Linked DNA regions of Homo sapiens: region 2 is linked to region 1. Evidence: fine-mapped expression QTL. A gene starts in region 1. The other region holds a variant in brackets. All regions are shown on one strand. Distances are from middle to middle.

Evidence for each region. PIP is the estimated chance that this variant, and not a neighbour inherited with it, causes the effect.
Region 2: its variant is fine-mapped to the expression of SNX19 in prefrontal cortex (ROSMAP, PIP 0.95).

Annotation. Positions count from the first base shown.
Region 1 is chr11:130,911,460-130,927,907 of GRCh38, forward strand. It overlaps SNX19 (sorting nexin 19), which reads right to left and starts at 5,020. Exons shown (of 11, transcript NM_014758.3): 1 at 2,807-5,020; 2 at 174-312. The coding sequence starts at 4,480. RefSeq lists an enhancer at 4,763-4,812 and a silencer at 4,933-5,212.
Region 2 is chr11:130,885,670-130,902,117 of GRCh38, forward strand. The region is part of intron 8 of SNX19 (sorting nexin 19); the gene reads right to left. Among named protein-coding and RNA genes, the nearest start is that of SNX19, 23 kb to the right of the region's middle. The variant G/C (reference allele first, on the strand shown) is at 10,536.

The sequences.
Region 1 (16,448 bases):
AATGTGATTGCTGCTGTCCAGCACTAAACTTCAAAACTCCTGAAGCAAATCCAGGGAGCAGAGAACCTTGAAACGGCATTCTCCTCCCCGATCCCTCCCATAAACCAACAGGCCAATCAGCGTGGCTCGACGTGGGAAGCAAGCGGGCAGTAGGGGTTGGGGAAACTCCTGACTTTTGATGAACTTTCGTAGATCTGGTTTCTCCTCCAGACGGGTCTGCAGATTCAAGAACTCCCGATAGCGACGATTCACAGTGTGGTAGGCCAGCTGCTGCAGGCCGCTGCTGTTTTCACCGTCAAGGGCTGTCTCGTACTGTTCAACGAACAAATTGATTGACTCAATCAGCCGGGTTTCAGCAATCTTCTATTCTGGCTTTACTGACTACTTGGTCAATGGCCACATAGCAAGAGTACGAAACTAAGAACAAAGGGAGGGAGTATGTTCCTATTCTGTTCCAGAACCTCCTATATCTAATTGCTTAGAAAGTCAGAAATGAGTTTCACTCCTCCGCACTACTACTTTCATCTGAAAGCTCCCTCTCCCAGATACTTTCTTGACTTATAAAAATGGCTACATAACTGTTTTTCAAATGAATATTTGAATAGAAGGCATAACATCCATAAAAATGATACTGCCTCTATCACCTTTAAATTACAGGGCTAAACATCATAAGGGGCAAACCATTTTTCCATTATACTCTCCCGTGATTATTTATATTAGTTAAGGGAAGAAGAAGTAATCCAAACAGCAGATATAAATCATTTGTTTATCTGGAATAAATTAAAGGGTATTTGTTTTGTTTCACGCAGATTAATTTTCCTAATTGTTATTCTTAGAGCTAAACTGAATTTTTCCTAAGTACGTATCATCTGTATCACAGAAGTCACATGAAAATTGGAGATGTGATAAGGGGTCAAAGTCCACTGTCTTCCTAAGCTTAGAGGGCTGGTATGTGGAAAAGACGACTTATATCTCATGTTCCCCAAAGAGTGAATACCACGGATGGCATGGAATCTGCAACTCAGCATGGGGGCACACTTCTTGACAGGGTAGTTAAGACACAATGAAACGCTGTGGGAGAAGTATATATGTGCGCCTTCTCATTAGGAATGGGCTATTATTTTTCGGTTGAGGTATACTGTGGGCAAGAGGTGGAAAAAACTACCTCCTCGTTGGTGGGAGTTGTGGCTGGTGCTTTACAATTTTCTGGAGACAGGGTATTCATTATGAGCTGATGTGAGCAAAGCAGTCCCTCAGAACAGCACTGAGAAGGAAAGACCAAGTAAGAGCAACAGGTGGCATTCAGGGTGGGGCTCTCAAGCCTGGAGCATTTGGAACTATGAGGCTTTCTGTGGAATATGCTGCTCCTCGAGGGCCAATTTTCAACACCGTTATGGTTACTTCCATCACATAAACCGAAAACTATTTACTATCAGAAAGTATAATAATATTGATATACAATTTAAAATCAGTTATATGTCCATATAAAAATCTAAACCCAATTTCAAACTACTCATAATTGGCTATATTATTTCGTTCTCATTTTTTACTTTACTCTTTTCTAATGCTTAATTGAAGCAGTAGCAGATGTCAAAATCTAGCCAACAACAAAAAAGAACAAATAATGGGAGAAAGACTGGGAACTTAAACATTCTATCCATCAACTTAATTTTTCTGCTAATGAGGAGGGAAAAAACCTGCTGTTTTATGTCAGTATTGGAATAGTCATTAAAAAAAGATGAAATAACCAGAAGCCAACACTTAAATGTGAGAAAGGTGCATGGCATAGGGGCATCCAGAATTAGAACAAAAAGGCAGGAAAATGTTAACAAAGTTATACCAGTCCTTTGAGGCTAGTCTCAGTTATTTTATGACCAGACATCTGTACTTCTACAATTTGCCTATAATGAGTGTGTGTCTGTGTGTTCACCCATATGCATTTCTAATTACTTCCATTCCGTCTTACTTGAAAATGTCATAATGTTACTTTCTAAAATGCTATGTCATGATGCAGCTGTGTTGAGCAGATCAAGGAAGGTCTTTTCCCTCTTAGTTGGATTGGGAGTTCGGAGGAGTGTAGCAAGCAGGCTGTCCCTGGTGGTAGCTTGTGGACTCAAATGAGAGAAATTCAAGTGTGGAAGGCAAGTAAAATCCAATGGGTAGGATCTTGTCCAAGAATTTTCTTTCTCAACTTCTTCCCTGCTGATTTCTTTTTCAAAATACTGGTACATTTTGTACTTTGTTTTAGGAAGGTAGGTTATTTACCTATGTCTATCTCAGAAGATAGCAAGTTTTTGACTCTTGGAGGTGTGTAAGCAGACTTGGGAACAACTTGACAAGAGATAACATGAAGAGGGTTGGTTGGATTAGAGAGGCAATTCCCCAAGATGGCCTTAGGACAGGCTGACTCTATGTTATCTGGAGAGTTCTATTTGAAAATAAATAAAATACAGAATCCAGGGACCCCCTCCTTAGAAATTCTCATACAGAATCCAACAGAGTCTGTCAGAATCTGTATATCTGAAAGGCAGCTCAAGTGATTTTGAGGTGCAGCCAAGTTTGGGAACCACTGAAAATATAACCCTCAGCATTCTAGCAGCCCTGAGGTTCCAGGATTGCTTGTGTGAGTACAGGATAAACGCTACTCTGCCTTACATATTAGCTTCAGACCATTCACAGAGATAGATGCCTATTGAAAGAACCACTTCAAACTAACAGCATCTCTCCCCCAAGAACATTTGCTTCATGACTGCTTTCCAAACCCACTCCTAGCCCGGGTGAGCACCCACAGCTTTAATCCTGTTACCTTCACAGTATAGAGTGTGTATGGGTGGAATCCAGTGCCACTGTGCTCTCGGGCTGTAATGGTGCCAGTGATACGAAGGTTCTGGATGATAACTGGACCATCGGGACTGCTTAGGGGCTCAAAGCTGAAGGTGGCTGAGCTGAGAGGACCAGGTGGAGAGGAGGAAAGCAGAACTGGTGGCAGAGTAGGATCAAGGGAGCTCACATCATTGGTGAGATCCTTCTCTAAGCATGACGGCCGTGAGGGGCAGGTCTTTTCTGGCCCCTCCAGCAAAGCTGTAACAGAGGCGGTAACATCTCCTTGTTCTATCTCCTTGTCTGCTGTGTCAATATGGATCTCTGGGCAGGAATTCAGTGTGGAGACCGGCAGGCCTGTCTCTGTTTCTGTCCCTGGACCCTCCTCAGCCTCTGCTCCTTCAGATGCCTCACCATCTTTGGGTTCCAGAGCCTGGGAACTCTCTAGGGCACACAGGGCATCCTGAATCCTGTCAGAGAGAAAGCTGCCTGGAGTCATGAGCATGATGGTTTCTTTGCCCAGTTCAGACAGCGGAGACTCCAGCTCTGAGTCTTCACATAAGAACAGGGGACCTCGAACATTTGGCTGTAGGAAATGAGATGAGTTGTTTCCTACTTTTCTTTCTTCACACATCCCACCCAAATCTCCCTCTACAGCTTCGTGGCCTTCTTCAACCTCTGGAGAGGGGCCTGCAGAACCCTCTGGCTCACTGTAACTTAGGAATACTGGGGCTGCTACTGGAGAAGCTCTCCCTTCTGGAAGCTGCTCTACCTCAGCAATCAGTGGCAGAGATGTCGGCACTGAGGGCTGTTCGGGGGCACTGGCTGGGCAGGGTGCTGGATCTCTGGCCTTGGAAAAGATACCCACGAGTACAAGGTGGATCCAGTCAGGATCTGACAGCCTGCTGATCAGTGGTAAGATTACATTGCATGTGATGAGTTCGACCACTACATGGCGTCCGGTACGAGTCTCCAAGTGGGGCTTGGGCACCAGCCCTTGAAGCAACAAATTCACAACGCCACGCGTATAGGTGACTTCAGCACTGGGGCTGTGCACAGCAGGATGTGGGGCAGTCGCCCGGCAGTAAGCCTCCCAGAGGTGGGAAGGCTCAACTGGACCATTCTTCCCTGCAGTGGCCTCCTTTGCCTGAATGTAGCTCTGCAGGTGACAACCGCAGAGAGTCAGAACACTCTGGGCAACAGCATGACTGTCCATCACGCTCATCCTTCTCCGAAGCTCCTGGACCAACCCTTTCATGGCTGCCTCCATTTCTTCCTCAAAGGCTGGCTCCTGGCTCACGGAACGGTACCAAGATAACACAAAATCTCGAATAATCATCTGGATGGTGCGGTTGATCTCCCGTTCCAGCTGCCTTTCTGCCTCAGGGCATGGAGGACAGGTGGCCAACGGGATGAAGCGTTCCAGATGCAGTCGACCTGAAGCCACTCCAGCGAGGCTGGAGCCCAGCCATCCTCCCAGCACCACTAGCAATGCCGACAGAAGGCACAGCAGCCACACGTTGACCAGAAGGTGTATGACCAGGAGCCAGCCAAGCAAGACCCCCACAGCCATCAGCTTCCGGCTACTCAACAGGTTATTGAGGTGACAGCTCGATCCAGCTGGAGTTTCCTGGAACGGTGGCACTGTTTCTGTCTTCATGGCTGAACGGACAAGGTGGCTTCCCCAGATGACAGCCCTCAAGATTTTACTTCAGAGTTAGGGAAGGGGGGCATGAACTGTGTCTCAGATATGGGGCGATCTGGGTGCTGTTCAGGGAACCGGGGCTCCAGGCCCTCAAAGTCCTACAGGCACTGCAAAGCGACAGCTGCAGCTCCGCGTCTCCCCATGGCTACCACTAACAGAGCCCTCCAACTCGCCCCTTCCAGCTGAGGTGTGGCTTTGGAGGAAAACTCTGTGGCCTTCACACTGCCCCAGGCGGAAGGCCTCTTCGGGGCCTCGGGGCGGGCGCTGCAAGGCCCTGGGGCCCACGGACACTTACACACGCAGCGGGCAGCGGCCGGCGAAGACTGGGTCACACGCCGCCGGGAACCGCGCGCCCACACTCAGCCCCGACCTGAAGTGGACTCATCGCGGTCCTCTCCGGGAGCCTCGGCCCTCTGCCGCCGTAAACCTGGGCGACTGCGCTCCGCAGCCGGGCCTGTGTGAAGGCTGACCGCCGGCCGGCCGCCGGCGACAGCTTCCGGGTCGACGTCGACGGGAGCGAGGCATGCTGGGAGAGCGTCCGCGCGCGCCCCGAGGAGCGGCGCTGCCCGGCGCCCTCTGCTGGCGAGGAGCCGCCCTGACGGCCCTGCGCGAGGTAGTCTCTGAGCCTGAGCGTGAGCCTGAGCGCGCACGGGGCGCGTGCTCGCCAAGAGCTGGCGCAGATTTCCGAAGTGCCACGAAACAGCCGCCGCAGCAATCACCGCTAAGACCCAGACTTCCAGGCGCTTTAAAACGCGTCCTAGTTCTGGTTATTAAATGAAGCCTGTCCTTTACTGCTTAGGCACGCTGTCAATAATCCGGTTTATTTTAATTTCATGGAGGCGAAGTTTCATTGGCCTGATGTGTCTTAACATTTATCCGGTTTCCCCTAGAGCCGGTACCCCGCGTCCCCAGCACAAAGACCCTCATTTGTTGTCAGGAATTGCAGAATATAAGGCATGAAACGATACAGAGATAGATTTATGTTGTACATTTCATATACTGTATCACAAAATCAAATTTGTGATTGAGGGTTATTTGCTGGTGGCATTACACAAACAATCAAATATTTTGAGCATCTGCTGTCTTCAATGTGAGAGGCAGCGTGGACGAATAGAAGCAGACCTTGTCCTCCAGGACCTCCTGCTAACTGGGGATGCCAGCGCTTTGAACGCGATTGGCTATCTAGTAATGCCAGTCAGCGTGCGATATAGTAAAATACAAAATCTTATAGGAATTCAGGGGAAGGAGAGATCACTGTGGGTTGCAATGGTTAAGGAGAAGCTCACAGAAAAGGTGCCTTTCTGCTGAGTCTTCAAGGATGAGGGTTTCTATTTCCCTCTATCTCTTCTCGCCTTATCCTCCCCAAAAACATAGAAAAGGAAAGCAGAGATAGAGGTGTCCTTTCAGATAATCCTGTAATATATTTGCTTTGGAATATGCTCTATGTTGGATTGTTTTTGGTTTTAGCAAATTAGACTTCACTTGTCTACACAGGAACCTATAGGAAGACAAAATACCGGAAGCACTGACCAGGTGTCAAAAGTGTTAGTGTCAGTTTTGCGTGAAGCCAGCTTCCATGTCCACCTTGGGCCCTAGGAGCTGTGCCCGCAGGGTGGGTCTCCTTTCCATTTAGGCATAGGATTCGCATCGTTTGCACAGAGCTGCTCATGGTTGCCCTTCGTCCACCTTCTCTGTGCTGTGAGCAGTCTTTCATCATCATGGACTACTCCCTAGATGTTTAAAGGAATCTTCAAACAAATCCCAACCCAAAACTCTGCCAACAAGAAGTGCGTTGCAGCTTCCTGTCTCGTCCATTGCTGCTGTTGGGGCAGAGACTTCCTTTGAATACGAAAGAAGCCATCATTTAGATGTGACCCGTAGTTTACGATTCATCACTTCTAAAGCAAATGGTTTGATTTAGGATCAGTGTCCACTAAGCAGACTGGGCACTCCCGTGAGATGGCAGAATGTGAATCCACGGTTTCACGGTCCATACCTTTTCACTGCTGCCTGCCTTCCCGCAGAAAAGGAACCCGAGAAGTGGGCTCTGCCCCTCTACCTTCCCAGACCATTCTAATGTCCTCAGGAGCACTTAGAAAATGGCAACAATGCTCTGGAGAAAAGTCCCTGCCACCTAGTTGGGAGCTAAAACAGAAATGTGAATGATGAAGGGACTACCGACGGTGCTGAAGACTTCCTGTGGCAGTTCAAAGAGAAAGTTTACTTGGCAGCATAATCTGGAGTGTTCAGGGCAGTAAGGAAGTGACCTTGCAAGTGGGCGCTATGCCACCTGACCAGATGGTCTGGAGCATCAAGGTAGCCAAGAGTGCCTTCCTGATTCTGAAGCGGGTTTGATGGACATGCCCGTGCACTTGTCATTTGGACGGGTGTGAGCTCCTGCCTGGGGGTCTGGGCAGACCCTGGTCTCCAAACAGATTAATCACTGGGAGGAGGTGAGAGTCAGGACTGATGTGCCCTGGTGTGTGTATGTGGGGTGGGGAGACTTGGCCACACCACTCACCATCTGGAGACGTCCTTCCTTCTTTCCTTTTCCCTATTTCTCAAAACATTAAAGGCATAGTGCTAGAGTGTTGGAGAAAACAAGACAAATAAGATACAATAATTCTCCTCAAGGGACTCTCAGTCTAGTTAAAGGAGAGACACATAAATATATAAACGTAATGAAACATGATCACGTGTGTAATGTGATGTGTTCTGATGTGTTGTAATAGAAGTGCATACAATAAAATCGAAACACAAAGCGGGTGGTCAGCTGTGGAGGGGGGTGGCTCATAGACAGTTTTCCCTTAAGTTGGGAAATGAAAAAGAATTGAGTGTATTTTAGGAAATGTTGGGTAGCGAGAGCAAGGGGCAAACAGAAGGAAGGTCTTTCAGGCAGAGGCCTGCTCATAAGAAACAGGCAGAGACCATGAGAGCAGGGGGGCCCGTGACATAGGCCCTGCCAGAGCCAGCCCGCACCCCACTTGAATTTTCTCTCAAAATAGAAGACCAGGAGGCTTCCTAAAGAGAAGCTCAGTGATGGGGCAAGTGAGTGAGAAGAGGCGATGGTATGGAATTATTGCTGTGGGATATAGAAAGGGAGCTATCGAAGGTCAGGTAAAAAGATGAAGTGGGGGCTGGGCGCAGTGGCTCATGCCTGTAATCCTAGCACTTTGGGAAGCTGAGGCAGGCAGATCACGAGATCAGGAGTTCAAGACCAGTATGGCTAACATAGTGAAACCCCGTCTTTACTAAAAATACAAAAAAATTAGCCAGGTGTGATGGTGTGCTCCTGTAATCCCAGCTACTCGGAGGGCTGAGGCAGGAGAATCGCGTGAATCCAGGAGGTGGAGATTGCAGTGATCCGAGATTGTGCCATTGCACTCCAGTAGCCCGGGCAACAGTGCGAGACTCCGTCTAAAAAAAAAAAAAAAGAGAGAAGGTGGGGCTGAGGGACCTTTTTGTAGTGGCACCAATACATATGGTTGAGTTATTTTCTCTGGAGGTGTTTAGTATTGTATTAGTCCATTTTCATGCTGCTGATAAAGACACACCGGAGCCTGGGCAATTTACAAAAGAAAGAGGCTTAATTGGACTTGCAGTTCCACATGGCTGGAGAAGACTCACAATTATGGCAGAAGGCAAGGAGGAGCAAGTCACATCTTCCGTGAATGGCAGCAGGCAAAAAGAGAAATGAACTTGTGTGGGAGAACTCTTCTTTATAAAACCATCAGTCTCATGAGACTTCTTCACTATCATGAGAACAATGGGAAAGACTTGCCCCCATGATTGAATTATCCCCTACCGGGTTCCTCCCATGACACATTGGAATTGTGGGAGTTACAATTCACGATGAGATTTGGGTGGAGACACAGAACCAAACCATATCATTCCACCCCTGGCCCCTCCCAAATTTCATATCCTCACATTTCAAAACCAATCATTCCTTCCCAACAGTCCCTCAAAGTCTTAACTCATTTCAGCATTATCTCAGAATTCCACAGTCCAAAGTCTCATCCAAGACAAGGCAAGTCCCTTCTGCCCATGAGCTTCCAAAATCGAAAGCAAGTTAGTTACTTCCTAGATACTATGGGGGTACAGGTATTGGGTAAATACAGCCATTTCAAATGGGATAAATGGCCAAAACAAAGGGGCTGCAGGCCCCATGAAAGTCCGAAATCCAGTGGGGCAGTCAAATCTTAACACTCCAAAATTGATTCAAAAAGTGGGTTCCCATGGTCTTGGGCAGCTCCACTCCTGTGGCTTTGCAGGGTAGAGCCTCTCTCCCAGCTACTTTCACGAGCTGGCATTGAGTGTCTGGCTTTTCAAGGTGAATGGTGCAAGCTGTTGGTCAATCTATCATTCTGCAGTCTGGAGGACAGTGGCCCTCCTCTCACAGATCCACTAGGTGGTGCCCAAGTAGGGACTCTGTGTGGGGGCTTTCACCCCACATTTCCCTTCCTCACTGACCAGCAGAGGTTCTTCATGAGGGCCAAGCTGCTGAAGCAAACTTCTGCCCGGGCATCTAGGCATTTCCATACATCCTTTGAAATCTAGATGGAGTTTTCCAAACCATAGTTCTTGACTTTTGTGCACCCACAGGCTCAACATCATGTGGAAGCTGCCAAGCCTTGAGGCTTGCACCCTCTGAAGCCACAGCCTAAACTCTACGTTGGGCCCTTTCAGCCATGGCTGGAGCAGCTGGGATGCAGGGCACCAAGTCCCTAGACTACACACAGCACCAGGACCCTGGACCCGGCCTATGAAACTCTATTTTCCTTCTAGACCTCTAGGCCTGTGATGGGATGGGCTGCCGCAAAGAAAGATCTCTGACATGCCCTGGAGACATTTTCCACATTGTCTTGGGGATTAACATTCAGCTGCTCGTTTCTTATGCAAATTTCTGCAGCGGGCTTGAATTTCTCCTCAGAAAATGGGATTTTCTTTTCTATTGCATTGTCAGGCTGCACATCTTCCAAACTTTTATGCTATGCTTCCCTTATAAAACTGAATGCTTTTAACAGCACCCAAATCACTTCTTGAACGCTTTGCTACTTAGAAATTTTTTTCTGCCGGATATCCTAAATCATCTCTCTCAAGTTCAAAGTTCCAAAATCTCTAGAACGGGGACAAAATGTCACCAGTCTCTTTACTAAAACTTAACAAGAGTCACCTTTGCTCCAGTTCCCAATAAGTTCCTCATCTCCATCTGAGACCACCTCAGTCTGGATTTCATTGTCCATATCATTGTCAGCATTTTGGCCAAAGCCTTTCTACAAGTCTCTAGGGAGTTCCAAACTTTTCCACATTTCCCTGCCTTCTTCTGAGCCCTCCAAACTGTTCCAGCCTCTGCCAGTTACCCAGTCCCAAAGCTGCTTCCACATTTTCAGGTATCTTTTCTGCAGCCCCACTCTACTGGTAACAATTTACTGTATTAGTTCCTTTTCATGCTGCTAATAAAGACATGCCTGAGACTGGGCAATTTACAGAAGAAAGAGGTTTAATTGGACTTACAGTTCCGTGTGGCTGGGGAAGCCTCACAATCATGGTGGAAGGCAAGGAAGAGCATGTCTTCCATGGATGGCAGCAGGCAAAAAGAGAAATGAACTTGTGGAGGGGAACTCTTCTTTATAAAACCATCAGATCTTGTGAGACTTATTCACTATCATGAGAACAGCATGGAAAAAAACTTACCTCCATGATTCAATTGCCTCCCACTGGGTCCTTCCCACAACATGGGGGAATTCAAGATGAGATTTGGGTGGGGAACCAGCCAAGCCATATCAAGTATCCTCGGTATAAAAGAGAAGCAAGCAGGAGGTATCAAGGTAGATGAAGTGAAAGGAGAAAAGATTAGGACCTTCACATCCTGGGAAGAGAGTGGTTACAGTGGAAAATCATGGAGTCTAGGTATCTGGGAAGGAAAACGAAGCCAGGAGAGAGACAAACAGCTGTGAGGAGAGGATGAGCTGTACTGGGAGCAAGTGAGTAAGAGCCAGAAGAAAAAGACCTGTGGCTCAAGATTGGTCCATCAGAGCCTGTGTTTGTTCTTATGGCTGCTCTACCAAATGACCATCAACTTAGCAGCTTGCAGCAAACATGTTTATTCTCTTACATTTCTGAAAGTCAGGAGTCTAAGATGGATTGAGAGGGCTTGTTCCTGTTGGAGGCTCTAAGGGAAAATCTCTTTTTTGTCCTTTCCAGCTTCTACAGGCTGCCTGTGATCTTTGGCTTATGGCACCACATGCTCCAACCTCTGCTTCTGTGGTCACATCTCTTTCTCCCACCTTGACCCTCCTGCCTTTTTTTTTTTTTTTTGATGGAGTCTCTCTCTGTCACCAGGCTGGAGTGCAGTGGGGCGATCTCGGCTCACTGCAACCTCCACCTCCTGGGTTCAAGTGATTCTCCTGCCTCAGCCTCCCAAGTAGCTGGGATTACAGGCGTGTGCCACCACACCCAGCTAATTTTTGCATTTTTAGTAGAGATGGGGTTTCACCATGTTGGCCAGGATGGTCTGCCTTCTTCTTAAAATGGCCCTGTGATTACTTTGAGCCTCCGCAGTTATCTAGGAGAAACTTCCCATCTCAAGACCCTTAACTTAGTCTTATCTTTTGTTTCTTTTACCAAGTAAAACAACATACCCACAGGTTCTGGGGGTCCAGATGTGAACATATTTTGGTGGAAGGGGGCATTATGTGACCTACTACAGAGGCTACATGCCTAAAGATGAAAATGTTTTTGTGGTAATAAAGTCTGGGTGTGGCCAGATGAGTTTCTGAAATAGGGTCTGGATAACCTAGGGCTAGGGTTGAAGGAGACATTTTGAGTCTATGTTTTGGAGAAGGATGATCTACATGGTCAAGGAAGTCACTAATGTTAGGGTAGAGAGGACTAGGATCTTGGTACAAATGTTCTCAGTAAGTGAGAAGAATGACCAGGAAGTTGGAAGGTGATGTAATACGAGGAGTGATATGGTTTGGCTCTGTGTCCCCACCCAAATCTCATGTAGCACTGTGATCCTGAGTTTTGGAGGTGGGGCCTGGTGGGAGGTGATTGGATCATGGGGGTGGTTTCTAATGAGTTAGCACCGTCACCCTAGCGCTGTTTCGTGATAGAGTTCTCGTGGGATCTGGTTGTTTAAAAGTGTGTAGTGCCTCCCCCTTTACTCTCTCTCTCCTGCTGTCTTATGAAGATATGCTTCCTTCCCCTTTGCCTTCTGCCATGATTTTAAGTTCCCTGAGGCCTCCCCAGCCATGCCGAACTGTGAGTCAATTAAATCTCTTTTCTTCTTAAATTACCCAGTCTAAGGTAGTTCTTTATAGCAATATGAGAACAGAGTAATACAAGGAGTAAAGAAAGTATGGTGATACCAAAAGAAAAGAAGGAAATTGTGTGTAATTTGGGAAAGAATCATCTAAAAGCATCCATGAAGAACTAGGATATTGGCAGGAGCATCTCCACATCCTGCCTTAGGCGCGGTGATGGAGCAAAATAGCCACCAGAGGGCAGCAGAAAGTATGGCATCTTAAGGAGAAACTGCATCTTACTTATTCATTTGTCAGTCCCATGTCTATCCATTCACCCCACGAGGATTAAGCCAGATATTGGGAATTCAAACATGGTCTTTATATAGTTTATCTTCTTAAAGAATTCACAGTCTAATGCAAGAGATGGATATTGACACAATGTAAAAAGTGCTATAATCAAAATATGTCAAAATATGGGAAGGCAGAAAATTAGGAACAGTTGCACAGAAGAGATGACTTTTGAGCTGGCCTTAAAGGGTGGGTTGAATTTCCCATAAAGACAAGAGTAACAGGCCCGGCGCGGTGGCTCACGCCTGTAATCCCAGCACTTTGGGAGGCCGAGGCGGGTGGATCACCAAGTCAAGAGATCGAGACCATCCTGGCCAACATGGTGAAACCCCGTCTCTACTAAAAATACAAAAATTAGCTGGGTGTGGTGGCGCGCCTGTAGTCCCAGCTACTCGGGAAGCTGAGGCAGGAGAATTGCTTGAACCTGGGAGGCAGAAGTTGCAGTGAGCTGAGATCGTGCCACTGCACTCCAGCATAGCGACAGAGTGAGAGTCCGTCTCAAACATAAATAAATAAATAAATAAATAATAAAAAAAGGTTAAAAAAAAAAGACAAGAGTAACAGGTCGTACTAGGAATAAGGGAGACATGAGAAATACTGAGTAAGCTCCCATACTTGTTTGCTACGGCTCAGAACAAACTACTACATGCTGGGTGGTTTAAACAACAGAAATTTATTTCTCACAGTTCTGGAGGCTGGAAGTCTAAGATCAAGGTGTTGGCAGATTTGGTTTCTCCTGAGGCCTCCCTTCTTGCCTAGCAGAAGGCCACCTCTTCAGCGTCTTCCCTCTGTGCACACGCATCCCTGGTGACTCTTCCTCTTCTTATAGGGATACAGTCATATTCGATTAGGGCTCACCCATAAGACCTTATTTAATCCTAATTACCTCTTTACATGCCTATCTCCAAATAGAGCCACATTCTGAGGTATACTGAGGGCTATGGCTTCAACATATGAGTTTTGAAGGGACAGGGTTCAGTTCATACTACCTCTTTTCTATCTGTGGGTTATGTGAATGGTCATATTTTGATTATGAGGATACTAAAAAGGAAGATAATAATCTTGATAGTTCCCAATATTTTTTTTCATTTCATTCAAAAGTGGAAACAGCACTGAACTACAAGTTAAGGAGATCCAGGCTTAACTTCCTCATCTGGCTGCATACAATACTAAATGCTCGAATAGCCCTTCCCTCTGCAGAACAACCAGACACTGAATAGGAAACAGTTATTGATGAGTTAATGGGCTCAAATGAGGACACAAAATAGGTGAGAAGTCCAAGGTACACTATCCCATCCCACTCTAAAAACAAAACTATTAAATAAGAGCAAAACGAAACAGAAAACAACTCTGAGATGAGGATAGAACTGTCAGTGGAGAGCAGATGAAAGGAGCAGGGTGGCCCCAGGGACAGACGTCCTTATCAGATCTGTAATTCAGGTTCTGAGCCTTGTTCCAGCAGGAGGAGGTGAAACTGAGCCCCTGACTCCACTTGGAGCCACAATCCTTGAAGAGGTTTGAAGAAGTTCCAGGTCAGTGGCATTTCCAAGCTTCTGGAAGACACAAAAGAAATCCATTCTGGAAGAAAATATTCTCATGGTAAGACCATGAAATAAGCACACATTTAATATAGAGTACTATGAACTCTAAATCCAAGACCATCAATTATGAGAAGGAAGGCTAACATGAGTGAGAATCAGAAAAAATAAACAACAGATTGAGAACACAAGGACTGTGGATATGAATATTGTCTGCTGCTTAAGATAGAAGATCCATGTATGAGCTCAAAATGAATGAAATACAAGTATGTTCTAACAATAACAGATTGTCAAAGATGCCCATACAGTTTCAAAACATAGCCAAATGAAACTTTTATAAATGAAAAATAGGACTACTGAAATAAAATACTTAATGTATGTGTTAAATAGTTGATTATATATAGCCAAAGAAAAAATTAATGACCTACAGTATTTGTTGAAAGAAATTATTTAGGCTATAGCATAGAGAACTAGGGAACTGAATATATGAAAGAAAAATGAAGAGAAATGAATGCTAAAATAAAAATTCTAATATTTATATGATCAAGAGTTCCAGGAAGATAATAAAGAGAATGGAGGAGGATAAAAATTTATAGAGATTTTGGCAGATAGTGTTCTAAAACTGGATGAAAACGTAGATTCAGGAAGCATCAATAATATAAAGTAGATCAAAAGGCCAAAAGTTTATTGTTTTAAAAGACCAGTAAAAAAGAAAAAAATTTAAGTAAATTGATTGAGAATGAAAAAGAGATAAATAGTAAATAATATGGAGCCTGATAAAGGAGACATAATTATGTATGCAGTAGAATTAAAGGAATAACTTAATGACGGCAAATTTAAACTCTAAAACAAAATGGAAAAAGTTTTAGAAAAATATAAATTACAAAATAATCTAAGAAGAAATAGGATGTTTGAATAAATCTACGCCTATTGAGAAATTAAGTAACATTTTAAGGTTTCTCTCAAAGCAAATACCAGATAATTTTATAGGCCAATTCTCCCAACCTATTCCAAATAGAATAGGTCATTCCAAATTTATATAATCTTATATAAACTCCTTAAGATTTCTTAAAAGTACATACTTTGCAACTCACGAATATAGTGTAACCTTGAAATCAAGACTAGACAAGACAGAGAAAGAAAGAAAATGTATGGGTTAACCTCTCTCATCAACTTTTAAATGTAAACATTTCTTTCTTTTTTCTTTTCTTTTCTTTTTTTCTTTTTTTTTTTGAAACAGAATCTTACTCTGTCACCTAGGCTGTATTGCGGTGGCGCGATCTCAGCTCGCTGCTGCCTCCTCATCCTCCTAGGCTCAAGGGATCCTCCCACCCCAACCTCCTCAGTAGCTGGGGCTACAGGCACAAACCACCATGTCCAGGGACTAATTTTTAAATTTTTTTGTAGAGATGAAGGGGATCTCGCCATGTTGTCCAGGCTGGCCTCAAACTCCTGGCCTCAAACGATTCTCCCACCTCAGCCTCCGGAAGTGCTGGGATTACATGTGTGAGCCACCACATCCAGCTAGATGCGAACATTTCTTAAACAAAATATTAGCCAACTAAATCCAGCAGGGTACTTAGGTGAAACCCCGTCTCTACTAAAAATACAAAAAATTAGCCGGGCGCGGTGGCGGGCGCCTGTAGTCCCAGCTACTCGGGAGGCCGAGGCAGGAGAATGGCGTGAACCCGGGAGGCGGAGCTTGCAGGGAGCCGAGATCGCGCCACTGCACTCCAGCCTGGGAGACAGAACGAGACTCCGTCTCAAAAAAAAAAAAAAAAAAAAAAAAGATAACACAAGGGTGGTTTAACATTAAAAACTCTGTAATTGGCCAGGCATGGTGACTCACTCCGGTAATCCCAGCACTTTAGGAGGCCGAGGCAGGCAGATGGCTTTAGCTCAGGAGTTTGAGACCAGGCTGGGGAACATGGTGAAACCCCGTCTCAACCAAAAATATAAAAATTAGTCAGGTGTGGTGGCTGGTGCCTGTAATCCCAACTGCTTGGGAGGCTGAGGTGGGAGAATGGCTTGAACCCAGGAGGCAGAGGCTGCAGTGAGCCGAGATCACGCCACTGCGCTCCAGCCTGGGCGACAGAGAGAGACTCTCTCAAAAACCACAAAACAAAAAAACTCTGTAATCATCAGCCCCTACATTAAATGAGAAAATCTACACGTTGTCTCAGTAGATGTGGTAGAAACGTTTGACAATATTCAATATTCGTTCATGATTTCAAGTAACAATTATAGGAAGGCATTTCCTTACCTCAAAATATTATTCTGAATGGGAAACATCAGAAGCGTTTCCCCGGTTCAGTTATTTTCTTATATTTAAATATTTTAACAGCTCTATTGAAGTATAATTGACATAAGATAAATTGCAAATACTTAAAGTGCACACTTTGATAAGTTTTGACATAAATATATGCCAATGAAACCATCACCACAATAAAGGTAACTAACACATCCATCATCTTCAACTTTCCTCCTGCTCTCCCAGCATCACCCTGCCCCCTTTCCCAAGCAACCACTGATTTGCTTCCTGTCACTTTAGACTAGTTTGTCTTTTCCAGAATTTTACATAAATGAAATCACATATAATGTACCTTTTCGTGTCTGACTTCTCTCACTCAGCATGCATAATTATTTTGAGGTGCATCCACGTTGTCGTATGAATCAGTAGTTTATATTTTTATAGCTGAGTAGTATTCCATAGTATGGATGTATGATAATGAGTTTATTCTTTACCTGTTGATGAATATTGTCTCACTTTTTTGTTTTTGTTTATTACAA
Region 2 (16,448 bases), 26 kb before region 1:
TGCAGTCTAAATATAAGGAAAATAACAGGTCCATTCCTTCCAGCCTATTTATCTATTGGCTGTACCTCTATAGACAATCCAAGGGCAATTATGCTCCAACCTTAAGATACCAAATACAGTTCAAAGGAAAAGAGAAAGAAAAGGAAGATCAAGTTAAAGCTTCTATCATCCTAAGTACACCTTCAGTAAATTAGAAGTATTGACTTATTTTATTACCCTGAGAGCAGGGTTTTCAACGTTGGTACTACTGATATTTTGGACTGCGAAATCTTTGTCATAGGGGCTTTCCTGTGCATTATAAAACATTCCACAACATCCTTGCCCCTCCTCCCCTCAAACTAGATGCTAGTTTTGCCAACCAAACATGTCTCCAAACATTGCGGCATGTCCCCTGAGGACAAAATTGCTCCAGTTGAGAATTACTGCCTTAGACCCAGGGACTTTTGGATATAATTGTATCAGGCTACTTTCACAGTCATTTTAAACCTCATGGTTGTAGCGCAATGTTTTTCGACCTGTGGGCTGGACATCATTAGAGGTCATATCATCTGTTTTGTTGTTTGTGATAACATAAAAAGGCATCTCATGTTTGGAGACACTTGTTTCGTATGTATGTACATATATATGTATATATCAGATCTGCGTGCATGCATATGTGTGTATGCGCCTGTGCCTATGTGCATGCTCACAGTGGGCTGCAACGTACAATGCATTTTTTACTGTAGGTTGAAGTTTTAAAAAAAGTTTGAAAAACACTCATGCAGTGTCAAGAATTAGGAGTTCCGAGAGAAAGTAGGAGAAGCCCAAGCCACATTTTTAGCTTCCTGGAAATGCTCCCCATCTCCACCCACCCAAGCACCCTGTAAAATGTTTGCAGGGGCCTCAACCATGAACACTGTGTTCTGTACTGCCAGTCCTAGCACATAAGTATGAGTATTGGCTCATCCAATCAGTAGCAGCAATCTATAGGGTGGGAGAGAAAGGAGGTCTTGGAGGTGATGGTGTAGATTCAGGACATTATCCATTAAACAAAATGTTTTTGCCCATTTCACACCTGATAAAAGTTATACTTCTTTTCTCTCTGATGCCGTTCCCAGGCCTCTGTCTTCCTGCCATGGCCCCTTCTTGTGTTTATAGACAGTTTCCCCTGTCAGCTCTCAGCTCTAGGCTTCTGTCCTGTAACTATCCAGACCCAAGTTACTCAGCTGTGTCTGAGAAAGTTCAACACTGCTGCCCTCTGACTGTGTATCTAGGTCACCATCCTTTCCTGCCCAGTGCTGGGGAAGAATGAGGAGGAAATGAACCCCGAGGGCAAGAAACTACCACTTCTTTCTCCCAATACTACTGTGAAATCTAAAATGGCTCAGAGTTGGCACAATTTCTTCTCTGATTTTTGCTTTCATGTTTTAAATCATGGATCCACATCTTTGAATCATGTACTTCAAGGGAAGACTTGACATTCTCCTAAATACCACAATATAAGAATCTGAGTTCCATACATTTATATCTAGCCACAAACAGTTTTTGTTTTTGATTAGTAATGTACACATCACAGATATAAAATTAATATGTATTAAAAAATGGAAGGATTCTTAAGGAAGGAACTTCAAAAAATCATCTGTTCAACCTTAGTGGTTTTTCCAATCTCACCAACTCTACATATGAAAGCATTGGGCACCAAAAGGAAATATTTTACATCAAGTGGCTTATAAGAACATACAACTTGAGAGTTGGAAGGAAACTTAGAGGTTATTTTATCCAGTCTCCTCCCAAAGCAGAAACCTCCTCTGTAATATAACGGCATAGACAAGGGTTGGGTCCTGTGAATCCAGAAACTTGGGCTTTTATCTTAGTTCTGCTACCCAATTAGCAATGTGACCTCAGGCAAGTGGCTTAATTCCTTAAAAGCATAATCTAAATTCATTGAAGATGCTTCTTAAACCTTGCCAACCCAAATCGGCCTCCTTGTGTTAATGAATTCTAGTCATTGGTCCTAGTTCTACTCTCTGGAGTTACCAGATATTAGGTTAAATCTCTTCCAAAAGACAACATTTTGCATTTTTAAATTCAGCTATTATTTCTCCCCTATGTCTCTTCTACATCCCATACATCCGTGATTTTGCCAACCTCAAAGACACTCAATAAATGTCTGATGAAAGAAGGAGAGAAATGAACCACTCCTCAACCTGGCTCCATCCTCTGGGTGTGCTGCTTAGCTTTTCTTTTAAAATGATGTGCCCAGAACCAAACAGCTCTGAGATGTGACCTGACCAGCAAAGAACATAGGGGATTGAGCCTTCCTTTAGATTTAGATACTATACTTCTCATACAGCCGAAGATTGTGTTAGCTTTTTGGCACACACGTCAAAAGCACTGACTCATATTGAGTTTTCAGCCAGCTAAAATCCTAAGTCCACACAGGTACATTACAAAAAAAAAAAAAATCGTGTGCCCCTCTGTTAAGTATAGTCTTGCCCTTCTGTATTTGTGCAATTAAAAAAAAATCTAAATTATAGTTCATCTTGTTGGCTTTAGATTATCATTCTAAGTTTTCTAAATGTTTTTGAATCTTAATTTTCATCATCTAGAGTTTTAACTACTCCTCTAAGATTAGAATTACTTGCAAATTTTCTGATGAAAAAATTGATCAGGATAAGATGAAGAGCAGTGCTCTATTACTAGAAATTTCCCTCTAGGATGGCATCAGTTTATGATATTATTTAATACCCTTGGGCTAAAGACACTCGACTAGCCACAAATTACTTAAATGTACTATAATGCAGGCAACATATTCCATTCTGTCCATATGGATATTATGGCAAAAACTTGTTGGAATCCATACACAATGTAACTACAACTGCATGCTAATCAGGCAGGGCACACTCCTACTGAACCCATAATGGTTTCTAGGGTTCCCCATTGCCCTTCCCAAATGTTCACAAACATCTATTTCGTCATCTGCTTCAGAAATTTCCAGAAATAAATGTTGGGGTCAAGAACCTTTAACCATTTTTTAAAAAGGCAAGATATCTGTGCATCTCTAACCCATATGGACAAATGGCAATGTTTCTTAATGACCTTAGGTCTTTAATGTTAAATATAAATTTGTTAAGTTTCATGGGATATAATTCATCTAGGCCATGTACAGGTTTAAATGTACAAACTTTAAAATAGGTTACGTGCTCTATTATTATTTTCATTTCTATTTTGGTCGCCAATTCTACTTTAATCATGTCTGTTCAATTCTTCTTGCTAGGCCATTTTCCTTGACAAAGAAAATAGAAAACAGCCTAGCAAATAATAGACCCATTCATTCACTGCTGAATGAATGAATAAATGCTTTCACCATGTAATCAGTTGATACTACAGCATCTGTCCCAAACAATTACCTACATATATTTTTTCTTGTTAGTAACATGTGACACGTGTATGTGTTTTTCACCTAAGTCTTTTCCCTTAATATTTATCTACAACCTCAGCTCCTTCTGAGTTGAAGCTTACTGGACCCTGTTCTTACTAGTTCTATTACTACTATTTTTGCATTGTTCAGTATGTGTCCCCTCTTTCTGTTTTTAAAATATGTTCACCTAGAATCTGATCGCAGTTAACTACCCTGGTTTCATTTGATGCTGACTCTTTTTCTTCCTCATTGGAAATGGGTGTTTAATTTGTTCATTCATTTACTCAAAGCATTGGTTGAGCTTCTTGTAAATGCCCCCCGACCCCCCAGAAAAAGACTCTTAAGGTTTTGAAGGCAGAAATCTTATGTAATTCATTTTGACATCTCCTTTAGCATTTAATAGTGTCATTCACAAATAAACAATCAAATATTTACTGAATGAATCGATCCTGTTGCAAAACTTTGAGTGATACCTTCAGGCGTGAATTTTAAGTTAATCTGTTCTTACAGCATGTAAAACAGTTTTTATCTCATTCTGTTACGCTCCTGTGAATTCCAGTACTCTCATCTATCTCTGCTTTCCTTTCTGTGTCAGCTGTTTTTCTCAATATCCAGTTTTAACTTTATCTGAATTTTTTTGTCAATGTCTTACTCTTCACTGGGTTGATGGTCTGCTGACAAACACATTCTTTCTACTATTTTTGAGTTGTATTCTGTCTGTGGTCAGAAGTTCACCATGTGAATAATCATACGTCATGGCACAGAAAATTTAAAAACCTTGCCTTGGTACCAGCTACAAGGTTAGCTATTCATTCTCTGTTTTCATTTTTCTTCTAAAGAAACTTACAGATAGAAAAAAAGTTGAAAATATAATCTGGGCCTTAAGTTTTCTACTAAAAAGAATCTCAAAATTATTAGAGATACAGTACAGGCTTCTCTGGGTGCATCATTGATTTTTATATAAATCAGAGTAGATACTAATCTATTACTTTAGTAAGCAACAGGATTTTAACCACAACCCCAATATGCTGTTCAGAAAGATATTACCCCATCTTTTTAGTTATGCTTCTCAATCTGCAAGGTGGAAAACTGTGTGAGTCATTCTTGATTTGTCTTTTTCTCAACCCTAATCCAACACCACATAATCATTTAAATAGTCACTAAATATAGGTGATCCTACCTCCTCAATATCTCATGAATCTATTACCCCTTTACCATCTCTATAGCAATGATCTCAGCTGAATGCCTCATCACCTTTTCTATCAATGAAACTCCTCCCTAATTTGTCTTCCTGTTTCTAACTTTGGCCCCTTCAATTAATTAATCCTCCACAGCACTATTTAAATGATTTTTCTCAATTGCAAATTTGCTCATGTCATCATCTGTTTATGTTTTGTAAAATTGTTTCCTATCAAATGAGTGACAAATGTTTTGTTCTTGGAATGACTCACAGGAGTCTGAATGAGCAGACTCCCTTTAAACTCTTCACTGTTATCATCAGCCATTATTCTTGCATATCATATATTCCTAATCAATCATACTAACTTCTTTGAGTACCACAAATACACTATATTGTTTTACTGCTCTGCCTTGAATGTTCTCTCTCTCTCTCACTGTCCGCTGGCAACGCCCCACATTCTTTAAATCTCATCTCTGATGTCATCTACTATAAGCCTTCCCTGCACCTCTCATAATTGATAAATCCCTTCTCTGAATCACATATAGAGTTCTTTTCAAAGCACTGATTTTATACTACAACTCCTATTTATAAGTTTGCACCTCCAATTGGATATCACACTTCCTATGGTAGGGATTTGGGTCTTTTTTTTTTTTTTGTATTTTGATCACTTAACGAAGTGCCTACCACAGAGAAAGCAATCAATAAATATTGGTTACTAAGTGAATTCATGCTGTATATGGGACAAACACTGGTCTTAAAGCATGGCACACAGTTCAAAATAGGTTCTGCAGAAAGCATACATCCCAATACTTACAACAGCAAAAACATTGAGCTCTTAATTATTCATGCTTACAGAGGAAGACAATTATAGATTTTAAAAAATCATGGACAATATAAAAATCCTTTATATTTGGCATTCCATATATGTTTATATACACGTCTGACAGATTTACTTTCCTAATAATCTTTTGTTTAGGCTAATAATAAAATGAAACTGTGGGCTAATACACCAGCGATAGAGCTGATGTTGTAACGGGTATGCTAGGTAATAAGTCAGGTGGTCTAGAACTAAGAATAATCCATGAAATGGGCATTCACACCTGGCTATGCATTCCTCTGGAAGGGAAGAGAGCTGGAAGGCAAGGGAGTGGGTCAGCCATGCTCCTTATCTCACACTATAAATCCTGGAGGAGAGAGACAGCTGCCAGTAGCTTATGTTTGGTCAATTTTCCTGGGAAATAGGCCCAGAGGATAGAAGAGATTGAAAGTCAAACAAAAAGCAAAGGGGGGTTATGAGGACTATGAGTCACACTTGTATTTTGGGAAGTGCCTCTGACGGATGGAGCAGCATTGAATTGATTCCAACCCATTATTTGAAACTAGTAAGAAGAAAAGAAGAGAGGAAGGTAGCAGAATGGGGGAGGAAAGACCAAAAGCAAAGGTCAGGTTACCTTTCTAACAAATGTAGAAAGAGAAAAAGACACTTGGGGTCTGTGTATTTTTAGGATAAATAAGACTGATTGTAAAGGGAAAGCTCTAACAATTTCTATATTTGAGTATTGTGACATGTTTAAGATTTCATTCTGAAAGTTTTTTCTTTTTTTTTTTTTTGAGACAGTCTCATTCTGTCGCCCAGGCTGGAGTGCAGTGGTGCAATCTCGGCTCACTGAAACCTCCACCTCCTGGGTTCAAGTGATTCTCTTGCCTCAGCCTCCCGAGTACCTGGGACTAAGGGCATGCGCCACGATGCCCGGCAAATTTTTTTTGTATTTTCAGTAAAGACGGGGTTTCACCATGTTGATCAGGCTGGTCTGAAACTCCTGACCTCAAATGATCCACCCACCTTGGCCTCCCAAAGTGCTGGGATTACAGGCATGAGCCACTGCGCCCGGCCAATCTGAAAGTTTTCTATGCACAAATCTAGTGTGCCTCTGAAGTCTTTCAAGTCAACCTTTTTTTGGCCCCATACTATGTTGCTACCGACATACTATAATCCAGTTCTGAGAAAATCAGGACTGACAGACTTTAAAAATGACACTGAAAAGCGACAGACAGGTTTGAACCTGGCTTAACCACATAAAAGTTGAACAAACTCTCTGAGCTCTGGCTTCCTTCATTATAAAATGGGCAAATTCTTGCCTTGCCTTTTTCACAAAGTTATCATCAAGATGAAATAAGAAAAATAAAAAGTATTTCTAAAAGTGCTTGTGTGTTTGCACATGTAAAAGAGAAAAAGACTACTTCAGACCTTCTGTAAAAATTCAACCAGGTTCAGCGAACTAATGATGGCAGGATCTGGAGTAAGCTTTGCATTTCATGCCTCAGTTTTCTCACTTGTAAAGCTTACTCTTCCTGGCAGGCTCAGGGAAGTAAATACTGAAACCAGTAAAGCATTTGGTACTGAGCAGTTAAGAAAATTGGGACGAGGCCTCAGGGGGTTTTGGATAATATGAAAACTCTATTTCCGAATCCTTCCTAAAACCAGACCTCCATGTACCAACCAATAAAACTTTCACTGCAGAGACTATAGGATCCAAATGTCTCTGTCTCTTCTTTCCTTGTCCCCGTGTGAACAGCAAGCCTGGCTCATTCTCAGTCCCCAGGTAGTTATCCTGAGCCTGCCTTTCTCAGCAGCAAGGGCAAGGGCAGAGAGGTGGGGTGGGGAAGGGGGAAGGTAATTAAAATGGCCACCCATTCAGAAGAAAATTGAGTCCGTGGAGGGGAAAGGGCAGGGAGAGGGAGCAAAACCCTTAGTGCTGAAGCACCAGGAAGAAAGGCAAGACACAAAAGAGGGAAGAAGGCAGTAATTTAGTGGTTGTCTTGACGACCAGAGTCCCTATTGTTCATGGGGGCTTTACCTCACAGGGAGATCTCCCTGTTCTGCTCTGCACATAGAACTCCCACCACAGGAAAGGAGGATGGGAAGGGAAGGGTTGCAGGAGGCAGAAGTGATAAGTAATTATGTGCTCGCAGAAGGGGCTGACCTCCAAATTTCTGCAAATATTACGGATAACAGATTTAGAGTGTGCTCAGCCATGATTTGGAAGAAAATTATTAGGGATTTATTTAAATCAGCAGACATGGGAGGACTTCAAATTATGCTGTGAAAATGGCTACAGGAGGCTGGAAAAGACCAGCCTTGAGGAGAATAAAGAATACATATATGAGAAGCAGATGCCCAAGATAAACAAAGAGAAAAAACACTGAGAGGGGTGTAGAGGAGAAGGAAAAGTGACTATCATTAACACCATCACCTTGGTGTAGAAGAGCTACCCAAAAGTATTTCCAGTTCCCTGTCTACAGGCTGAAATGTAAAACCTTTCCAAGTAGAAGGCCATCTATCCCGTTATGAAGGACGTAGGGACACCGAAGTGGCAACTCCAGAATCTCCACAGAATAGGAACTTTGGGAGCACTGACTATGGGTAGAAAACACAGAGGAGTAATAAATAAAACTGGAAAAACAACAAAAAGGAAACCTGGGGGAGAGAGGAGGCAGGTGTTGAGGAACTTACCTTGATGCTGCATTTGCACACCAGCCTCCCTCCCAGGAAGGCTGAATCCTCTCCGAGAAATCTTTCGGGGCCAGCATTATATTAGAGCTAAAGTATATTTCCCACCAATTTACCCAACTCCCTCCCTGCTCCAGTACCAAATAGCTCTACTTCTCCAAAGGGCACTTGGAGAAGCCTGCAAGGACAGAGGTAAAGATCAAAAGTAAGCAATAACATATGGTTGCTTCTCCAAAACCAAGTTAATGGGGGAGAGCCAAACGGTCTCCATCCATGGCCGAAAGCAATAGGGAATGTCCTTGATTATGTAACAGGTTGATAAGATTCCTAACATCGGGGCTATTCAGCACTGACAATCTCCATCTTAGTGAATACATAATGTATAAGATTTTAGGATCACAGGAGACCCTGAATATAGGTCCAAGTAGTTTATACAGAATATTAACAAAATTCTTGCAATTCAGATGTCTAGCTGGTCTCATCACCACAGACTCTGTTCTGCTCACTCTGTTCTGAATGAATCAGCTCCAGCACTGAATTTTTAACGGGTGGGATCCACTCAAAGGGGCAACTTCTGGTCATCCACACCACTCAGAGAAGCAAGCATATGCTGAAGACGCATTAGAGCAGAAGGAAGAAGGGTGAAAGATCAAAGAAACAGGGCTTATCTAAAAGTCACTGGCACTAAGGAGTAGGCAGATAAGTGGCCTCTAAACCGTAGAGCAAGCCAGGGAATGGCTTCAATATACTGTATCAACATCACGGCAGGGGACCTATAACTGCAAAACAAACAGGTCTTCCTCAAAGGACAGTGAATGGTATTGTTTAACCTGCAGCGCCACCTGGTGCCCATAGAGAGAATTCCTGTGCCCACGCCATGCAGCAGCAGTTTGGTAGGCTTTTTGTCACCTATTTGAAACAATAAAAGCAACACACATTCAGAAAGAAGCTGGCTAAAAATATTCCAGGTTGCTTTTTATTTGAAAGTAGAATGCCCCTCCTCCTGTTTTAAAAATGTCTTAGTGTCTAGAATATTATTTAGCCTAAACCAGTCTAAATGACACCTATCTCACAAGATCTAGCTGTTATACCTTCCTCTATAAAGCCTCTCTAACATTTACCTCTAAATTATCTCTTATCCCCCCAAAGAACTTCATGCACTAGGCTATGATTTCTATTTCGACAGTAACAGACAAAGGAAGTTAAGTGGTTTGTTCTAAGTCACATAGCCTCAAAGCAAGATCTGATTTCAGATCTGACTTCAAAGTCCAAGTTCTTGCTTTCCATGTGGAAGGAAAGAGGTGGAGAAAGTACAACAGCAGGAGATGCTTCCAGAGAGGGCAGGCTCGGTGGGGCTTCATACTGGGAGGCCCAGGTTGTGGAGGGGCGCTGCACTCTTTGGAAAGGAGAGAGCCATTAGAATGGGAGATGGCCTGAAGGGCCCCCAAACCTCTTTGCTTAGGCCGTACCATGGCTCTGGGAATCAGAATTCCCCAATTAACTGAAGATCTGGGTATGCCCTGTGTGGAGGGAATGAAAGACTCAGTTTCCATTTTGCTTCTGGTCCCCCAGCACTGTTGAGGAAACCCTAAGATTCTTAATAGTGATAAGCAGAGGGACTGCCTCCAGTAGAATGACGTGTGATCTTCTGTGTTCATTTATTTGACACAAATTTACTAGGTGCCTTCTATGCATGGGGCTGGGTGTTGAAGATATAATGGTAAATAAGACGCAGTCCCTGCCCTCAGGATGCTGACATACATTCTAAAGCTGTCATCAAAATGTCAAAATCTTAGGTTCCTGTTTGCAGTCACAGATGGGCAAGAGATGCCAAGAACCTGACTTGGAAAAAAAGGCTCTGAGGTTTAAATACCTCATGATATTCTGTTTTTTGTTAACTTTTACAATGAGCAATTTTGTACCTCTATTTGAGTATATGAGACTTCAAGAGCACACACACACAGAAATGCAAATGCAATGCTCAGGCACACGGCTGTCAGCTGCCATCCACCTGCTACAATCTCAAAGATATATTCCAGTAGAGACTGTCACTATGTGACAGGAAAGCCATGATGTCTTCATCCTAAGATGGGTGTAGAATAAGTGATACCCAAGAAATATGACAGGCAGACCACTCATATGACAGGGGAAACTGCTAGGGCCCATCCTGGCCCAGTCTATAGAAGTCAAGAGCTTCCCTTTGGCATGGCCTAATGGAAGAGGCCTGGGACAAGCAGTACTCCTTCCCAGGGAGCCACAGTACAATCTGAGCAAAGCCATCAATGAGAAAAATTAATTTCAGCACCTCTAAAAACAGCCCAAGCCAATGACTGGAGAGCCAGAAAATAAGCGAGAATTCTGAAGACTGAGCTTGAGTTAATTTTGTATGTGGGGGTCTTGCAAAAGTATGCGTATTTCTAGAAAAGCTGTGCATAGGAAGAGAT[G/C]GGGTATAAGACATAGCCAGGCATCAGAGCTGAACTGGAAGAAAAAGTTACACAGCAAAGGAAAAAACTGTAATCTATGCTTCCTGAGAAACTCTGAGTCTTAACGTTGATAATCTTTTCCTGATTGTGAATAGCATATAAATAGAGATAGCTAAGAGACAATCTCTGGCTCAGAAGTGCTTTAAAAATAAAATCAGAATATGCAGACAAAAATAATTTATATGCTACCATCAGATGCGTGTGTCCCTGAGACCAGCTGGATGGAAAGCAAGAGAGGCTAGATGGGAATACGGCAAGGGAACTTTCAGGTGAACCCAGTTCTAGTGGCCACTGCTTTGTGGGAAAGCTTGCATGGAGGGGAAGCATGGCAGAGCAGTGGGAAACACATGAGCTCTGAGGCCAGGATGACTTAAGTGGAATCTTAAGGTGTGGTTGTTACGACTTTTATGATTTTGGGAACGTTATTTTATCTGAATGTAATTTTCTTCACTTATGAAATGTAGAACTACATGTCTATCTCATAGAATTGAACATTAATATAAACAGTACATAGCTGCTTTCCTGGTATTAATATTGTAATAAGCGTCAGTTCCTTTCCCATTGCAATTACTCGTGCACTTTTGGTGGCAGACCTGGAGGTTCTCTTAAGAAATAACCAATGTCACAAAGAACTGTTATCCACCTGCTAGTTAGACATGCCCACCAAGAAAGAGGCCCTTGAAGTAGAGTTCCACAGAAAGCGCCTTGATTCTGGAGCGTTCTAAGAGAACAGTGGAAGCAAGAGGGTTCATGGTCAACCTTTCCCAACTGTCCTTAGGGGAGGTGGACGTTGCGCCTTGCAGCACAGCACTCTCCAGTGCTCCCAGACTCTGCCGCAGCTCTCCTGACCTTTCCTAGGAGATGGTTTAGAGAGAGACATCTTCTCTAAGAAAGTGATTCCAAGGTCTGGTGTAAGGTCTAGAGCTTGCCATCAAGTTTCTCCTGGGTGCCCTGCTTGTTGGACTCCTTAAACCTGCACACCCTTTCTTTTCTTCTTCCTCTCTGGATACTTCCTAACTTTACACACTTCACGCTCCCCTCTGCCAGAACCTTTCCCCCTGGCTTTCTGCCAAGCCATTCCATTCCCACATGCCCCCAACACTCACACACACACACTCTGTCTCTATCTTACACACACACACACAGACACACACACACACACTCCCTTTTTAACTGAGAAATCCTGACGCAGATGCCAGGAATGTGTCTGCTGCCCTTTTGACACAGGTCTGATGCCATCGTTGGGGCCATGGGGAGGGCAGCGCCGCGGACGTGGCATTCACGCATTCTGCTGCTGGCATGGTTCCTATTTTTATCGTGGCATTGCTCTGGGTGTCCAGGCAGGGCGCCGGTCCAGCTTCTCATTCCTTCACTTTCCATCAGGACTCCACACCAATCCTACCCCTTACCTTGGCTGGATCTTCCTGCCCCAAACCCCCTACCATCAATGCAGCACAGTGTATCTCTCCTCTTTCCCTCCAACCCAGTCTAACTCTGAGTACTTGCCCAGTTTGCTAAATCTGATTCTGATGTTTGCAGAGATATTTTCAAGTTTCTTCTGTTTTCGGGCATGAGCAGAGTTTGCACAAGCCGGATTTGCTCCTTGGCTCAGAGTGCTACCCGCTCTCCCCTTCCCCTCCCTTTGTCTCTCATTCCAAATAAGGAGTGCTTCTTGTTACATAATTGGATGTTCCCAGCACAGAAGCTGACACATGAGGTTAGGCGCACATGCATGCAAGACTTCCCTTTGACTTAACAATGCCTTTTTTGGGCATCTAACTTCTCTTCAGCTCCCCTCCCACTTCTCTCCACATCATCAACAATCAACGGAGATTTATAAGCCTGGCTCAGATCAGAGCTCTTCCAACTTTGGCTTAGAAGGAGGGGTTATGAGGTCGAACTTACTCTGTTTTTTTTTTTTCCTTTGCAGGATAGAGAGTGTGCTTATAATTTGACAGAAGTCTATGGCGTCCAAGGCAGTAATGTACACAGGTCTTTTAAAGTTGCAAGATGGGTATACAAAGTTGGAAGCAGAGGAATAAACTTGCCTGCTTGGGGATAATAATACTGGAGGTTGGAACATGAGGACATTTTAAGGAGGAGATGCACTCAAATCTGGTGACTACAGCATCCCTGATGGTCAAACTGCAGTGAGTTCTAAATAACTAGAGAAGTGGCAGTACCACGTGTGGCACCAACACCAACTATCCTGCTCTTTTAAGCACGGAACTTAAAGGAAGAGAACCCAAGTACCCTGCAAAAGCATATGGCTCAGCTACCCGTGGTTTCAGGGAGGACAAACATGTAGCCTCCTAGGCAGCAGTCATGGGGATGGGAGGCAACGGGACCTCATATCATGCCTCTTGTGGGAGATGCAGGGGGTACAGTGGAGAGGTGCTGCAGCTCTGGAGATGTCAAGTTTCCAGCATATTGGCTTACCAAAGCAAATAAAGCTGAAGCATGCAGCAATGCATACACCACTTTTTAAAATTAAAACCTGCAACTGTCCCAGGGATAGTAACATGGGCTGTCTTTAGACTGCAGCACTGCCCTTAGGTTAGCTGCAAGTGTGTAGATACGGAGATGCAGTTTGGATTCTACAAACTGCCTGATAATCTCCAGTACTTGGAGACAGAGATTTTTGGGTTGGCTTTTATCCTGCTGAATTGCAGGGCAAAGATCTGATCCTGAAATTTAGACAATCATCACAGCTATAAATCAGAAAAACCTGGGTTCAAATTCTGCTTGTGATATTTATTAACCCTGTGATTTTGACTAGATAACCCACATTCTTTGTAAACCTTAGTTTCCTTGTCTTTAAAATGAGGGTCATAGTACCGCTTTCGCAGGACTTGGAGGAATTAAATGGTATTAAGTTGGTGCAAAAGTAACTGTGGCTTTTGAACAGCATGTGCATACAGTGTTCAGTACAGTATTTGCACTAAGTCAACTCTCGATAAACATTTGCTGGACAGCAAATGTGCTGATGCTGACGAGATTATCAACGTTTACACTCTGAATGCTAAAATGTGTTAGCTCCATGTCTATAATGCACAGGGTGCTTCCAGGTATGAGACCATGGGCCACCAGTGCCAGATCTTTGGAAGCTCTAGTGGAAGAACCGGTTCTTTCTTTAGATATCATGACTTCTAGCTTCCTATCTTAAGGAGGCTTCAGGAAAACTGTGAAACCAGCTATAAGGTACTTCAGAAGAGGGCCAAAAATGTCATTAAAAAGATGGGAAAAATGATTTGTAGGGATACATGAATGGCCTCAAACAGAGAAGTATGAGATTCTTCATTTAATTCTAGTCTGTGGAAGCTTGGGTGAGGAGACTGCTAACCAGATGTGGTCCTATTTTCATTGCAGCTAATACAAAACCAAATGGGCTAAGGATAAAGTTGTATTCTTAGATATAAGAACTTGTTGACAGGAAGGGATATGAGGTAACTGAACATGTATAAAACATCTTCACCTGGAAATATGTACAATGAACCAAAGATAACAGGCCATAGTTACAACAAGTTTTTCAAAAGTAACTAGCCGCAAAATGCTGTTCTTGCCCAATATTCACAGTGGCTTCATTCAAATTCACCAAATATATTCAGAGTTTTCCCACTTTTCCCATCACAATAGTGATGCTTTTCCATAAAACAGAATAAGACAAAACCAAAAAACAAAAAGTCAGAATGTGAAAAGAGGAGAAAGTCTAGGGAAATTCAGCTGTAAGCCCTCTCCCTCATTTCCTTTATGGCATGAGCTACATTTGGGTTTTGCTAGTCTGCATTCACCAGACTTTACCCAGCTCACTGGAGTTGTGGTTGTAGTTGGGGAGTGTCAGGGACAGGAATGGAAAGGTGAGGAACTTGCCTGGGCAACATAGTGAGACCCCATCTCAACCAAAAAATTTAAAAAATTAGCCAAGCACGGTGGTGTGTGCCTGTAGTCCTAGCTACCTGGGAGGCTGAGGTGGGAGGATGGCTTGAGCCCAGGAGGTTACAGTGAGCTATGATTGCAGTGCCACTGCACTCCAGCCTGGGCGACAGAATGAAATCCCATCTCACTGATATTTCATATATTGACATTTTATCCTCAATATATGAAAAATGAAAAAGAAAGAAGTCTCACAGCCTCTGCTCTGAACTCTAAAATGAGCCCTGTCTTTTCCATGTCTGCCACGCAGCTGGAGCTTGCTTCGCTCGTATTTAACTTTTCTGCCTTAGATCTCCCAGGGCCCCGGCCACATGAAAAAGTACTTCTGTGATCATTCTCTAACTCCCAGAATATAGGTATTTCTCCTTTATCTGGACTAGCCCAAACCCTTGAGCACTCTGAGTTATTCAAACTTCAGGTCAACTTTTTCCTACCCCTTTTATATAAGGATCTCAATCTTTTTTGAATTTCTCCTAACTCATCTATACTTTTATCCTCATACTGAATAATTTCTCGTGTTCTGAAACCAATCTGTCATGTAAATGACCTCAAGGAGAAGGGGTCATATTAGATCACACACTAGCTAGTTTTGGGATCTTCTCATTTTGTTTTTTTAAACCACTTAGAAGATTAGCAAAGGGAAGTCCAAAAAAAGAAGAAGAGAAATGAAGGCCTAATTAGTGACATCCAGAGGTGACAGAATAAAACTAAAGAGACTATACTTTCAAGTGTAAAGGTACTGGGAAGGGAAATGTTTATTTCTTTATTCAATATTTAATGAGTACCTACTATGTCCAGGCCCTGTATAAGCTGCTGGGGAGACAAAGCTAGTTCCGGTCCTTAAAGAACTAATAGTCTACACAGCATTTCTCAAGCTTGGTAACACTGATATTTTGGGCAGGATAATTCACGTTGTTTGGCATGGTGGACTGTCCTGTGTAGCTGCAGGATGTTTAGCAGCATCCTTGGCCTACATCCACTAGATGCCAGTAGGCATCCCACATCTCCTTCCCAGTTGTGACAACAAAAAATATCTCCAGATAATGGCAAGTGTCCCCTGGGGGACAAAAGTGTACCCCAGTTGACAACCACTAGTGTAGGAAAAGCAGATCATTTATATAAACACACTGTGACAAGTATTATTATCAAAACTTTGCAAGTTAGAGAAGAGGACTCCTTAATTCTCGGGGAAAGAGAGCAGATGCTACAGAAGGTTTCACAGAATAAATGACATTTTATGCTTAATATATGAAAAATGTTTTGCAGTAGGCCAAGCAGACAAGAAGAGGAAAAGTTAGGAACACATGGAAGGAACAGGGAAATAACAGGTAGAGAAAGACCATTCGAAGGCAGATACAGGAAGATGAGCAAAGGCCTGGGGGTAAAAGACCACAGAATATTCAGGCAATGATGGACGTTTACACGGTGGAAAATGAAAAATAAGACTGAAACCAGATCATGCCAAGTAAGAAAGGAGGTGGAATTTTAATATAAAGAAATAAATGCATATTTTAAACAGAGTGGAGCCCCTTTTCAAACAAAGCGTTACCTAGAGCCCCAGTATATTAAACTGATCAAAGTGTAACTTCTGTGGTTGGGTCATGGTCCACTCAGTTTTCCCTGAGCTTCTAAGTTGGCTTCAGAAGCACTTCTGCAGAACCCTAGAACTCTAGGAAACATAATGGAAAAACCACTTTTGTAGGTAATAGGATACTACTGAAAGATTTTAAGTGCAGAATATATGTTCAGATTTGTTTTTCAGAAAAAGGCACTCTAGTGGCAGGGCTGAATACTGAGTAGGAACAAGGGGAAAAGCTTAAAGGGACAAAGACCAGTCAGCATTTTATATGTAGGTTTCACTTGGACATCAGTCTTAAGGCTACAAGATACATGAAAAAAGCACATTGGCTTTGAAGTTGTACAAATCTGGTTTAAAATTCT